Homo sapiens: one gene and its partner. The protein of the gene in region 1 interacts with the protein of each later gene in a pairwise test. Each region holds a gene or a part of one and is shown on either strand. Other genes may lie near its edges. The genes, in order: KATNAL1 and GUCA1A.

The links.
Region 2: the proteins of KATNAL1 (region 1) and GUCA1A interact in binary tests that used the Homo sapiens proteins (3 or more experiments, as listed by UniProt).

What each region holds. Positions count from the first base shown.
Region 1 is NC_000013.11:30,297,421-30,304,716, reverse strand, and holds part of KATNAL1 (katanin p60 ATPase-containing subunit A-like 1), read left to right. Parts: intron 1-7,296. UniProt on the Homo sapiens protein: Regulates microtubule dynamics in Sertoli cells, a process that is essential for spermiogenesis and male fertility. Severs microtubules in an ATP-dependent manner, promoting rapid reorganization of cellular microtubule arrays.
Region 2 is NC_000006.12:42,176,141-42,180,629, forward strand, and holds the end of GUCA1A (guanylyl cyclase-activating protein 1), read left to right. Parts: intron 1-2,139; coding exon 2,140-2,289; intron 2,290-2,661; coding exon 2,662-2,755; intron 2,756-3,102; coding exon 3,103-3,263; 3' UTR 3,264-3,916; downstream 3,917-4,489. Other genes in the region: GUCA1ANB-GUCA1A (guanylyl cyclase-activating protein 1), read left to right, coding at 2,140-2,289, 2,662-2,755, 3,103-3,263. UniProt on the Homo sapiens protein: Stimulates retinal guanylyl cyclase when free calcium ions concentration is low and inhibits guanylyl cyclase when free calcium ions concentration is elevated.

The DNA of each region.
Region 1 (7,296 bases):
TCAGAGAGAGCAGGCTGGAGTTAGAAGTTTGCATATAGATAAGTAATTAAAGCTACAAGGGAGAATGGACCAGCTCACATTGGAGTAATGAGTAGAAAAGAAAAAGGAAGAGGTTTGGATATGGAACTCTCATTTAAGAAATGTGTGTAGGCCGGGCGCAGTGGCTCGCGCCTGTAATCCCAGCACTTTGGAAGGCTGAGGCGGGCAGATCAGGAGATCAAGAGATCGAGACCATCCTGGCCAAGATGGTGAAACCTCGTTTCTCCTAAAAATATAAAAATTAGCTAGACATGGTGGCGCACACCTATAGTCCCAGCTACTCAGGAGGCTGAGGCAGGAGAATAGCTTGAACCCAGGAGGCAGAGGTTGCAGTGAGCCAAGATCATGCTGCTGCACTCCAGCCTGGTGACAGAGCGAGACTCCGTGTCAGGAAAAAAAAAAAAAAAAAGAGTTGTGTGTATGTGTTTGCGGGAGGAGCCTACAAATGAGACCCTAGTTAGGAGGCATAGAGGAAGAAGAACTGGGAGAGAGCATAACAAAGGAGGGGAAAATAAGGAAAGAAAGTAAGTTGTCTAATTTTGTGTCTCCAACTTATTTTCTGCATGATCATAGGCAGGTCTCCAAATCTGTACCCTTATTTCATATGAGGTGTTAATACTATTTATTTGATTTTGGGAAGTTGAAACAGTTTAGTGGAGGTAAACCCTAAAGTGCTCAACAACTGAAAGCATTTCTTCTCCCACTTCCTTACTAACAGTGTGGCAGGACTGCCAGTTCTGTCTGATAGAAAGGCCCTGTTCTAGACTTTACTTGACCATATTAAGCAGGTGGATCAGGTAGTAGTTATATTACAAAGTGATGATTAGAGTCTGAGGACTAATCAATTTTTTAAAATGAAGCTTCCGTTAATGCTATAAAATGTTATTGTATAGGGCATTAATACCAATGTACTTTTGCCTTGTTTTCATCTTCAAAGAAACAGGAAGTTCCACTAGATAATATGAGAGCTCAATGGCTCTAAAATTCTTCAATTCTGACAGTATTTAATGTCTGGACTGATTTGTGATTTCACTGATATTTGAGCATCTGTAAATGAAAATATGTTTATATTTTAATGTGCTCAAGAGTATTTCATTTTATTTTTATTTTTTGGAGACAGGGTCTGACTCTGTCACCTAGGCTGGAATGCAATGGTGCAGTCATAGCTCACAGCAGCCTTGAACTCCTGGGCTCAAGCAGCCTTCCTGTCTCAGCCTCCCCAGTGGCTGGGATTTCAGGCATGTGGCCACACCCGGCTCAACATTATTTTAAACATTTTTCTCTTCAGTGATAACTATACTTATATATGGTAGTCCCAGGGAAATTGTGCCCTAGAATACCTGATAAAAGTGAGATATGGGCATTTGCCAGATAAATTCAAGGCATAGATTGTGAGAGTAGTTTAAAAAAAATGGAGTAGTTTTTCAAGGTGGTTTAATCTTCACTGGATGTCTTTAGATATGTTTCTTTTGCTGGGGTATGGTTTGATTGTGGTCCTAACTGAACGGATGGCAAAGGAGTAAATGACCTTTTAAGTCCTTTTGTAACTTTGTTCTGTCCATTAGTAATTGTAAAAGCTCCTATTAGGCAGCCTATTAAAAAGTGAGCTTTGGTTTGAAATCTTATTCTTTTTAATATTTTGCTATGAAGCTGTTTTTAGTGAGCACTTTTTATAGTTTTTAATCATATCTCAGTATTGTTTTGCATTTTGTAAAGAATTTAATGCTTAGTTGCTGATCCCCCAATTGTATTTACTTCCCAGGGTATTATAGAACTCTTTAGAATGGTTATTTTGTGGACATTTATCAAACACATGTGCCTTGCATTTGAGTTCAAGAAACATTATTGTGTGTCTTTATGTCAAACAGTGCACCAAATGATACATGATACATGAATAAGATCTGGCCCCTCTCTCAAAGGATGTTACATTTCAGTCAGTGCTCAAACTAGTTTTGGTATACTCACTCTTGTGTTTTTTAAGGAAATCATCTCCAAAAAACAATGTATTTTATTTCTTATTTTCTTAGCTTTTACGTGTTTGAGGGACAAACAATATAACTTCATTTGCTGTATTTCAATAAGTTGTTCCTTTATTCTCGTTTATTCCTGTCTCTGTGAGTGTCTTTATATGTCAGTATTCTTTTCTTTCTGATGTTTTACTCTTTCCATTTTTCCTGGTGATTTGGCAGTAGGAAGAGAAATGAATGAGAGAATCAGTAGTGACTGTTTTTTTTTTCTGACCTACTTCTGTGAGAGTATGGATGACTGGTATTTAACACATAATTCCTGATATTTTTATACTTGTATTTTCTCTGCATTATTAGATATTATTTGAAGTCAAGAATTTTATGTTAGTGAACTCCACGTGGCCTTACATTGTTTCTTATATGTATATAGGTTATTTGCTTAATGTGGTAGGTGCTTACTAATTAGTTTAGATTGAATGATGAATGGATGAGTAAGTAAATATGATTATAAAATTACTTGTTCAAAGACTACTTGAGTCTGGGTGTGGTGGCTCTTGCTTGTTATCCCAGCACTTTGGGAGGCTGAGAGGGGCAGAAAGCTTGAGTCCAGGAGTTTGAGACAAGTTGCCTGGGCAACATGGCGAGACATCATCTCTGCAAAAAATACAAAAATTAGCCAGGCGTGGCTGCGCACACCCGTGGTCCCAGCTACTCAGGAGGCTGAGGTGGGAGGATTGGTTGAGACTGGGAGGTCCAGGTTGCAGTGAGCTGAGATTGCACCATTGCACTCCAGGCTGGGCGACAGAGTGAGACCTTGCCTCAAAAATAAATAAATACATACATACATACTTCATAAAATACAGTAATATGAAGCAGATGGTTTTGAAAGGTTTTAGGCTGTTCAAAGCACTATGAAATTAAAAAACAAGTAGTATTTAATTATATAGGCAACCACAACAAAATATCTTTATTTCTGTTAATAAGCCTTTTATATTTATTTTTAGATTAGCTGCGTAACTTTAAAGGAATTTGAGGCAGTAAATTGTAATGAGCCAGGAGGACAGGCTCTGAGTTAGACACATCTGGGTTCAAATCCAGGCTCTATGGGCAAATTATTTAAATTCTTTAAAGCCTCAGTCACCTCCTCTGCTAAATGGTGGGTAACTGTTACTGTTTTGTAGTGTTATAAGGATTAGATGAGATAATGCCTAGAAAAACATTTTTATCGTATTACTTGGTGGGGAGTTAGCATTCAATAAACATCGCTACTATTATTTTTGTGCTAAAAAGGGTATTTATGCAATTAGATAAAGTTTATAGGGTTTTTTTTGTTTGTTTTTTTCAGACAGAGTCTCACTCTTGTCGCCCAGGTTGGAGTGCAGTGGCGCCATCTCGGCTCACTGCAACCTCCGTCTCCTGGGTTCAAGCTTCTGCCGCCTCAGCCTCCTGAGTAGCTGGGACCACAGGCACTCGCTACCACGCCCCGCTAATTTTTGTACTTTTTTAGTAGAGACGGGGTTTTGCCATGTTGGCCAGGCTGGTCTTGAACTCCTGACCTCAGGAGATCCGCCTGTCTAGGCCTCCCAAAGTGCTGGGATTACAGGCGTGAGCCACCATGCCTGGCCAAGTTTATAGTTTAAGCTGTCATCTTGAGACACAGTAACAGATGATCCACATTTTCTGTCCTTTGTAATATTTTAAAGCTGCCAGTAGAATTTAGAACATGAGCAGAAATTACTGTGATGGTTACTTTTGAGAAACGTTTAAGCTCTTAGAACCCTATATTAGTATCTAGATTCTTTTATGTTTATGAACAGTTTTTTTTTGTTTCTAAAATATTTGAGAAGTGATTTGTATACATGTAAAAAATAAATGAAAAGCCTTAATTACTACATACATTCTTCTGTAATGTCTGGGTTTGTGGTTGTTTTCTTTATTATTCATGGCAAACTGTAGTCCTTGAGACTATTACCCAAAATAAAGAGATGGGAGGTATTGTGGTTTTCAAAATTAACTATTTGGTTGATTAGTACTCACATAGTAGGTTCATTTATTGTGCTTGAAACATACTTCAGGATGCATTAATTTGAGAAGTCATGGTTATGTGTTTCCTTAATTGCTTTTATTTATAGCAGCCATTGTATGACATAAACTGGACTTCGGTGATTTGGAGAAACTTTTTTTTTTTTCATTAAGCATGTAAAGCCTGGACATATTGATAAAATTCATTGTGGTACAAAATATTGAAAATAAAACTTGATTTGTTGTTTTGCTTACCACTGTTCTAATTAGTGTTATTTAGTTCACATTGCTATAGTTCAGGTTACTTAGGTGTTTCTGAAATAGGCATCTACTTTCAGGAATTTACAACTTTTAGGAGGAAAAGGAACAATAGGAGAAAAATATGGAAGTGTCAGAATAAAAATAGTTTAAAGCAGAAATTATTTTCTTAGCCTCATATGTATTGTAAGTATAACTGAATTAGATTGACATCATTCACATAAAATTAGTTTAAAAAATGTTTTGTTTCCTCTTCAAAAACCATTACTGTGGAGACAAAAGAATGATAAATATTATGATTTCATTTGTAAAAGGAATTATGAGTGACATCCCTGGTGGGATTGGGTTCTGGATACAAGCTAGCTTTTCATTTTTTCAATTATATGTCTTAGTCTTGGCATGAGATAAAAAATTCAAGTATGTTGGGAGAGAATGTGTGTGTGTGTGTGTTGTGGGTGATGGTAGATTTAAAGGAGAGAACAGAAAGGTTGGAGATGTAGCTGAAAAGATGGCTTTATGTGTTACATTTAGATCTGAGTCATGAAACAGTTACAAAAATAATTATCTGGAACCAGATAAAGCAGTATTCCTTCTTGATCTGAGCATGAACTTGGACTGAGCTCTTCTCAGTCTGAGCCTAGAACTCTCCTTGAAGGTATTATCTGGAGCATTCTGTATAGGGCAACTTTGCTGGGTCAGTTCAGCAGTAAATACTGTAAGAAGATGCTTAATTTATTTTTGAATACATAATCTCAAAATAAGAGACATTGTCAAATATTAGACATTGCTAAAATATTTTGTCTTTAGATTTAACCTGACATTTTAAAAAGACCTAGAAATTCTTCTAATTTATATTAAAGGAGATTTAAAAAACTATGTTTCAAGATTATGACTAAAAATAATTTTAGTATAGCTTCTAGAAATTTATAATGAAAATTGAATCAGTTGATTTCTTTTTTTCAGAGGAAAAATTAACTGCTTCAGTTATCTGCATTGATGTTGAGTGTAGAGTAAAAATATTCCTTATATTGATTCAGTGTTGTATGTGAGGAATGATGTTAACATATGATCACATTTAATTTTTAAAATAACCTTATGATAAATATTATTTTTCCTATTTTGTAGACAGAATTGAGGCTTATTGAAATTATATGATTTGCCTGAGGTCACAACTAAAAATTTATGGTGCCTGGATTCATATCCAGGCTTTTCTGTCTGAAATTTTTATGTGGCCTTTATCAAACATAAACTTGAATGGTTTGGTATACAATTCTAGGTTGCCAACCCCCTACACCCTTACCCCTTGGAAGATATTATTTCATTGTCTCCAGGCTCCCACTGTTCCTCTTGAAAAGTTAGCTGTCAATATAATTTCTTTCCTTTGTATATAATTTGTCATTTCTTTCTGTTTTAAATGTTCTTCAGTCTTACTACCTTGTCTCTAGGTGTGAACTTTGATTTGCTTTGAAACTGAAAATTATTGTCTTCTGTTAGTTTTGGAAAATTCTCAGCCACTGTATTTTTGAATTTTGCCTTTCTTTTTTCTCCTGGAATTCATAATAGACATACATGATGGATCTTCTCTTTCTACTCTGTTGCATTTCTTAATCTTATTTACTTATTCTCTATATGCTGCATTCTGGTCAGTTTCTGCAGCTCTGTCTTCTGGTTTATTGATTCTCCTTTTATCTGTGTCTAATCTCTTGCTTCCTCAGTCCACTGAGTTTTGTTTTTATTTCAGTGACTATATATTTTAATGCCAGAAGTTCTTTTTGATTATTTTTCAAATAAGCTTATTTATTTTAAAATTTCTTGTCCCTATGTCTTTAAATGTACTTATTTTACAGTAGCTAAAAAGGCCTTAATTTTGCTTTATGTTGTATTAATTCTCCCTCATAGTGGATTGCTTTCTTTGTATCTTGTAATTTTAGATGTAAACTCAGTGGAAATAAAGTAAAGCCTGGGTAAATGATATGTCCTGTACTTTTGTGATTTGTTTCTGTGAAGTGCGCTATGGAGAACTGATGAGTGAATAAACAAATTTTAGTATGTCTATATAATGGGATACTACTCAGCAATAAAAAGTAATTACTGATACATATAAGGGCATAGTTGAATCTCAAAAGCATTATTCTAAATGAAGGAAATCAGAGTATATACCATATGAGTTTATTTATTTTGCATTCTAGAACTGACAAAACTGCAGGCATACTTGAGAGATACTGTGGGCTTTGTTTCAGACCATTTTGGTAAAGCAAATATTGCGATAAAGCTAGTCACACAAATTTTCTGGTTTCCCAGTGCATATAAAAGTTACGTTTACACTATACTATAGTTTATTAAGTGTGCAATAACATTACGTCTAAAAAATGTACATGTCTCAATTTAAAAATACTTTAAAAATTTTTAACTTTTATTTTAGATTTAGGGGGTACATCTGCACGTTTGTTACATGGGTATATTGCATGATGCTGAGGTTTGGGATATGAATGATCCCGTCACCCAGAGAGTGAGTGTAGTAGCCAAAAGATAGTTTTCCAACTCTTGCCTGCCTCCCTCCCACCTCTATTAGTTTCCAGTGTCTGTTGTTGCCATCTTTATGTCTAGGAGTATCCAATGTTTAGCTCCCACTTATATGTAAGAATATGTAGTACTTGGTTTTCTGTTCCTGCATTTATTTGTTAAGGATAATGGCCTCCAGCTACATCCATGTTGCTGCAAAGGGCATGATTTTGTTCTTTTTTAAGACCATATAGTATTCCATGGTATATATGTACCACGTTTTCTTTATCCAATCCACTGTTGATGGATACCGAGATTGATTCCATGGCTTTGCTATTGTGAATAGTGCTGCAGTGAAGATACGAGTGCATGTGTCTTTTTGGTAGAATGATTGGTTTTCTTTTGGGTATATACCCAGTAATGGGACTGCTGGGTCAAATGGTAGTTCCGTTTTAAGTTCTTTGAGAAATCTCTAAACTGCTTTCCATACCAACAATGTATAAGTATT
Region 2 (4,489 bases), on another chromosome or scaffold:
ATTGTGGCAGGTGCTTAATAATATTCATTGTATGAGTGAATGAATATATGAGAAATCAGGAATTTAATGGCTAGTTATTTTATAATATACATCAATTTAACTCTGCAAATATTAAAATGAAGAGTGACTTTGTAACACCCAACCTGCCTCATCTACACCCATGGCACACAATCACACTTTGCATAATACTGTCTTGACCCATTGTCATCAGCATGGAGCAGTTTAGCAGATTGGCTAGGAGATGGAACACAGGATTGGGAAGTTTTTGTTGTTGTTGTTGTTTTGTTTTTTGTTGTTGTTGTTGTTTTTTGAGATGGAGTTTTGCTCTTGTCACCCAGGCTGGAGTGCAATGGCACGATCTCGGCTCACTGCAACCTCCACCTCCTGGGTTCAAGTGATTCTTCTGCCTCAGCCTCCTGAGTAGCTGGGATTACAGGTGCCCACCACCACGCCTGGCTAATTTTTGTATTTTTAGTAGAGACAGGTTTTCACCACATTGGCCAGGCTGGTCTCGAACTCCTGACCTCAGGTGATCCACCTGCCTCGGCCTCCCAAAGTGCTGGGATTACAGGTGTGAGCCACTGCACCTGTCCAGAAGTTTTGATACAGAGAGGAGTTAAACAGGGACAGGCAAATGACAGCACACAGGCCTGTTTTTGTAAATGAAGTTTTATTAGAACTCACCACATCTATTTATTTACGTAGAGAATTGTCTATGGCTGCTTTCACGTAAAATGACAGAGGGTGTTTGGCTGCAAAGCTGCATATTTACTCTTTGGCTCTTTACAGAAAAAGTTTGCCATTTTCTAATAAAAACTAAAAAGTTTTTAGTGCAAGTGCCAGCCCTTGCACTAAAAAATGGTTGTATCTTTGGGTATTGCACCAGATGTGCAGGGCTGGGGAGTACAGAGTGTGACTGGGGAGTGAAACCTGGGGGACAGGCCATTTGCTTTGCTTACTTCAAATGTTTGTCTGGGCTTGGGTTTGTCTGACAATCACACAGGTGCACACAAATCAATGCAAATCTCCATCTGCATTTGAGTACTGATATAGGATGATTTAGGAGAGGCTTTGTCATTCACTAGCTGTTTGGCCTAATCTCTCTCAACTTTGGCTTTGTCATTCAAACTAGAGACAAAAATATTCACCTCTTGGGGGTGGCTTGAGATTAAATGAGTAAAATGAATAAAGCACTCAGCCTAGGAAGTCCATGGAGAGCACTAAGAAAAGTTAGTATTGCTATATATTTTCATTGAATCTAATGCATACCACAATCTTGAAAAGTGCACACTGTCATTCCATTTTATACCTGGGAATACGGAGACTCAAGGTCATGTGACTTATCCAAGGTGATTTAGATCTTTCTGGCACAAAAATCCACACCTTTTCCATTGCCCCTTTTTAGACATTAAAAAAAAAACCTGCAAAAGCAATCCAGCTCATTGTAGAAATTTCCAGCAATACAGAAAGATAAAAAATGAAGAGCAAAAGTATCCTCACCTGGTGTCCCCTCCCCCAGAGGAAACCTCTTTAGCAGTTTTCTTGCTTATTCAAGCTGTGCTGTCTAGGGGCCTCTCTGGGCTCTGTGCTGATGACAGTCCTGGGAGGTGGGTTGGGACTGAATGAGCCCACTGTGGGGTTCAGAGTGTTTAAGGCCTTCCGGGGGCCTCAGCCCCTCAGGCAGCAGGGTGAGAAACTCCCAAAAGCTCACCCAAACCACGCTCCCATCCCTGGGGGTGCAGTTCTTCCTCCTCCCACCTACGCACATGTCTCCCATTTCCCCTAACTGGAAAGGCTCATGCTTGACAATCACAGGGAAGCAGGCAGCGCTCGCTAAAACCCAGATGCCTGTGAACAGACAGCGCCAGCCATTCACACCCCAGTGGATGCTGGCTTATTAGATTTGATTGGCAGCCTCTGGAGTAGGCAGGGTGGGCTATACAGGGCGTCTAGGAAGACAGATAGGTCACGGCGGAGACAGGGCTGGCCCCCTCGCTGCATCTCCGAGGGTCCGGGTCTCCCCTCAGCGTCTCTTGGGGCTTGCCGAGATGGGCGGAGCCTTGGGTTATGATGGGCGGGGCCTGAGGCTGGAGTGAGCGGGGCCCGGATGGGCTCACGGCGGCCGCGCCCCTCGCCCAGGACGGCTACATTGATTTCATGGAGTACGTGGCAGCGCTCAGCTTGGTCCTCAAGGGGAAGGTGGAACAGAAGCTCCGCTGGTACTTCAAGCTCTATGATGTAGATGGCAACGGCTGCATTGACCGCGATGAGCTGCTCACCATCATCCAGGTGCAGAGGGCCCGGCCAGGGCTGGGGGCAGCGGTCTGGGGTGGGACCCGGAACTGAGAGCCCAGGGTTAGAACAACAATCTCAGGATTGAGACAGGATGTGGGACTGAGGATCCTGGTGGCAGCTGTAGGCCTCACCAGCTGCGTGACCCAGGCCACGTTCCTTCCCTTCCTTGGCCTCAGTTTCCTCATCAATACCAAAAGACGATAGAAGTTTGACTCTTGAGTCCCAGCTCTGCCTAGGCCCCCGGGTACCCTGCACTCTACTCCTCACTGCTCTTGGGAGCCGGACAAGCTCTGACCGTCCCCAATCCTACCCCTGAGATAGGATAAGGATGGGCCCCTCTCACTTCTGCCCCTTCTTCCCTCCCAGGCCATTCGCGCCATTAACCCCTGCAGCGATACCACCATGACTGCAGAGGAGTTCACCGATACAGTGTTCTCCAAGATTGACGTCAACGGGGATGGTGAGGGGGCCGAGGAGGGGCTCCCCAGCGGAGGGGTCACCATGGATGTGGGGTCACCAGGGGTGGAAGGTCACTAAAGGAGAGGGTGAGGAAGGGAGGAGAGGCCCAAAGGCCCCCGTGCTGGTCACTTCCTCCACCTGCCTCTGCCCCAGCCACAAAGTTGGCTTTTAGGGGCCCCTGGACCAGAATCTGGGCTCTGGGTTCCTCTGCTTGCTGCACCCGCAGCAGGGGCTCTGACTTCTCCTCACGTGGGCTCTGTCCCTGCCCCTGGCAAGAACCCGGTTCTGTGCTCTGGACTGCAGAAATGAACACCCTCCTCCCCCTGATTCCCTTTCTCTCTACCCCAGGGGAACTCTCCCTGGAAGAGTTTATAGAGGGCGTCCAGAAGGACCAGATGCTCCTGGACACACTGACACGAAGCCTGGACCTTACCCGCATCGTGCGCAGGCTCCAGAATGGCGAGCAAGACGAGGAGGGGGCTGACGAGGCCGCTGAGGCAGCCGGCTGAGTGCACCGCCCGGCTGCTTCTGCACTAGCGGGTGGGGTGGTATGGTGGTGCCTGTTGGTGGTGTTCTTGTCTTAACCCTAGATAGAATCTAATGAACTCAGAGGCTTAGCTCGCCTCTTTAGGGTCCATGGTGGCAGCAGAGAGGCAGAAGTGGGAGTCCAGAGCCAGGAACAGTGAAGGATGGTTCCTGGCCCCTCTGAGTGACAGCTGGTGGCAGCACTCCTTGCTGGGGGGCACTGTTCAACATCCCTCTGCCGTCGGGTGACCCCCTAGCCCTTCTGACTCCTCTCCCAGCTTTTCCCAGCTTTCCCCACTGAGCTTCTCCAGTCCATGCTCTTCTGGACGTGGACTCTCTGAGGCAGAACTGAGCTTTTCCAGGCCTCTTATGGAATCCTGCAGATCCAGTGGCTGCAGCTTCAATCCCAGTGCTGCAATCACACATCCATTCTGCCCTGGGGGACCCTGGAGCCTACTTGTGCGCTTTGCATTTCATTGATTGACGCCTCCCTTCAACAAGCATTTACTGAGCGCCTACTATGTACTAATGCTAGATGTTAGATGTACAAAGAAGACAGTTTTCATCCTCTAGGAACTCATAGGCTAATGGTGAGACACACAGACAAACATCATTATAATAAAATATGCTAAGAGAAGTTATGAATAGATTTCTGTAGAAGACACCTACAGGCGTCTGACTCAGAGGCAGCATCACAGAGGTGACCTTTGACTTTGAACAGGAAAGAGTGCTTCGGGGCCGAATGTAGAGAAGAAGGTGATGCATGTGGGGTGGTTGGAGATGCATTCTCTGTGATGTATGTGTCACATGTGGGGGGCTGTGTGATGTGGACAGGAGCATTCTTAGGTGCAAATTTGGGGTATCCCTTGGGATTTAAATTTTACCAAATTTAAAACAGTAAGAATCACCATATCTGTTTTTAGGGAGTACCCCAGTAAGGGAAAACAAACAAACATAGCTTCTTCAAGAGATTTATAATCCTACTAGCAAGATAAGGATGGGATGTTTTGCCAGGTGTGGTGGTAAATGCCTGTGATCCCCAATACTCAGGAGGCTAAGGTGGGAGGATCCCTTGAGCCGAGGGGTTCAAGACAAGCCCAGGCAACATAGTGAGACCCCTCTTCAAAAAGATAAAAGGGAGCCGGGAGCAGTGGCTCATGCCTGTAATCCCAGCACTTTGGGAGGCTGAGGTGGGCAGATCACCTGAGGT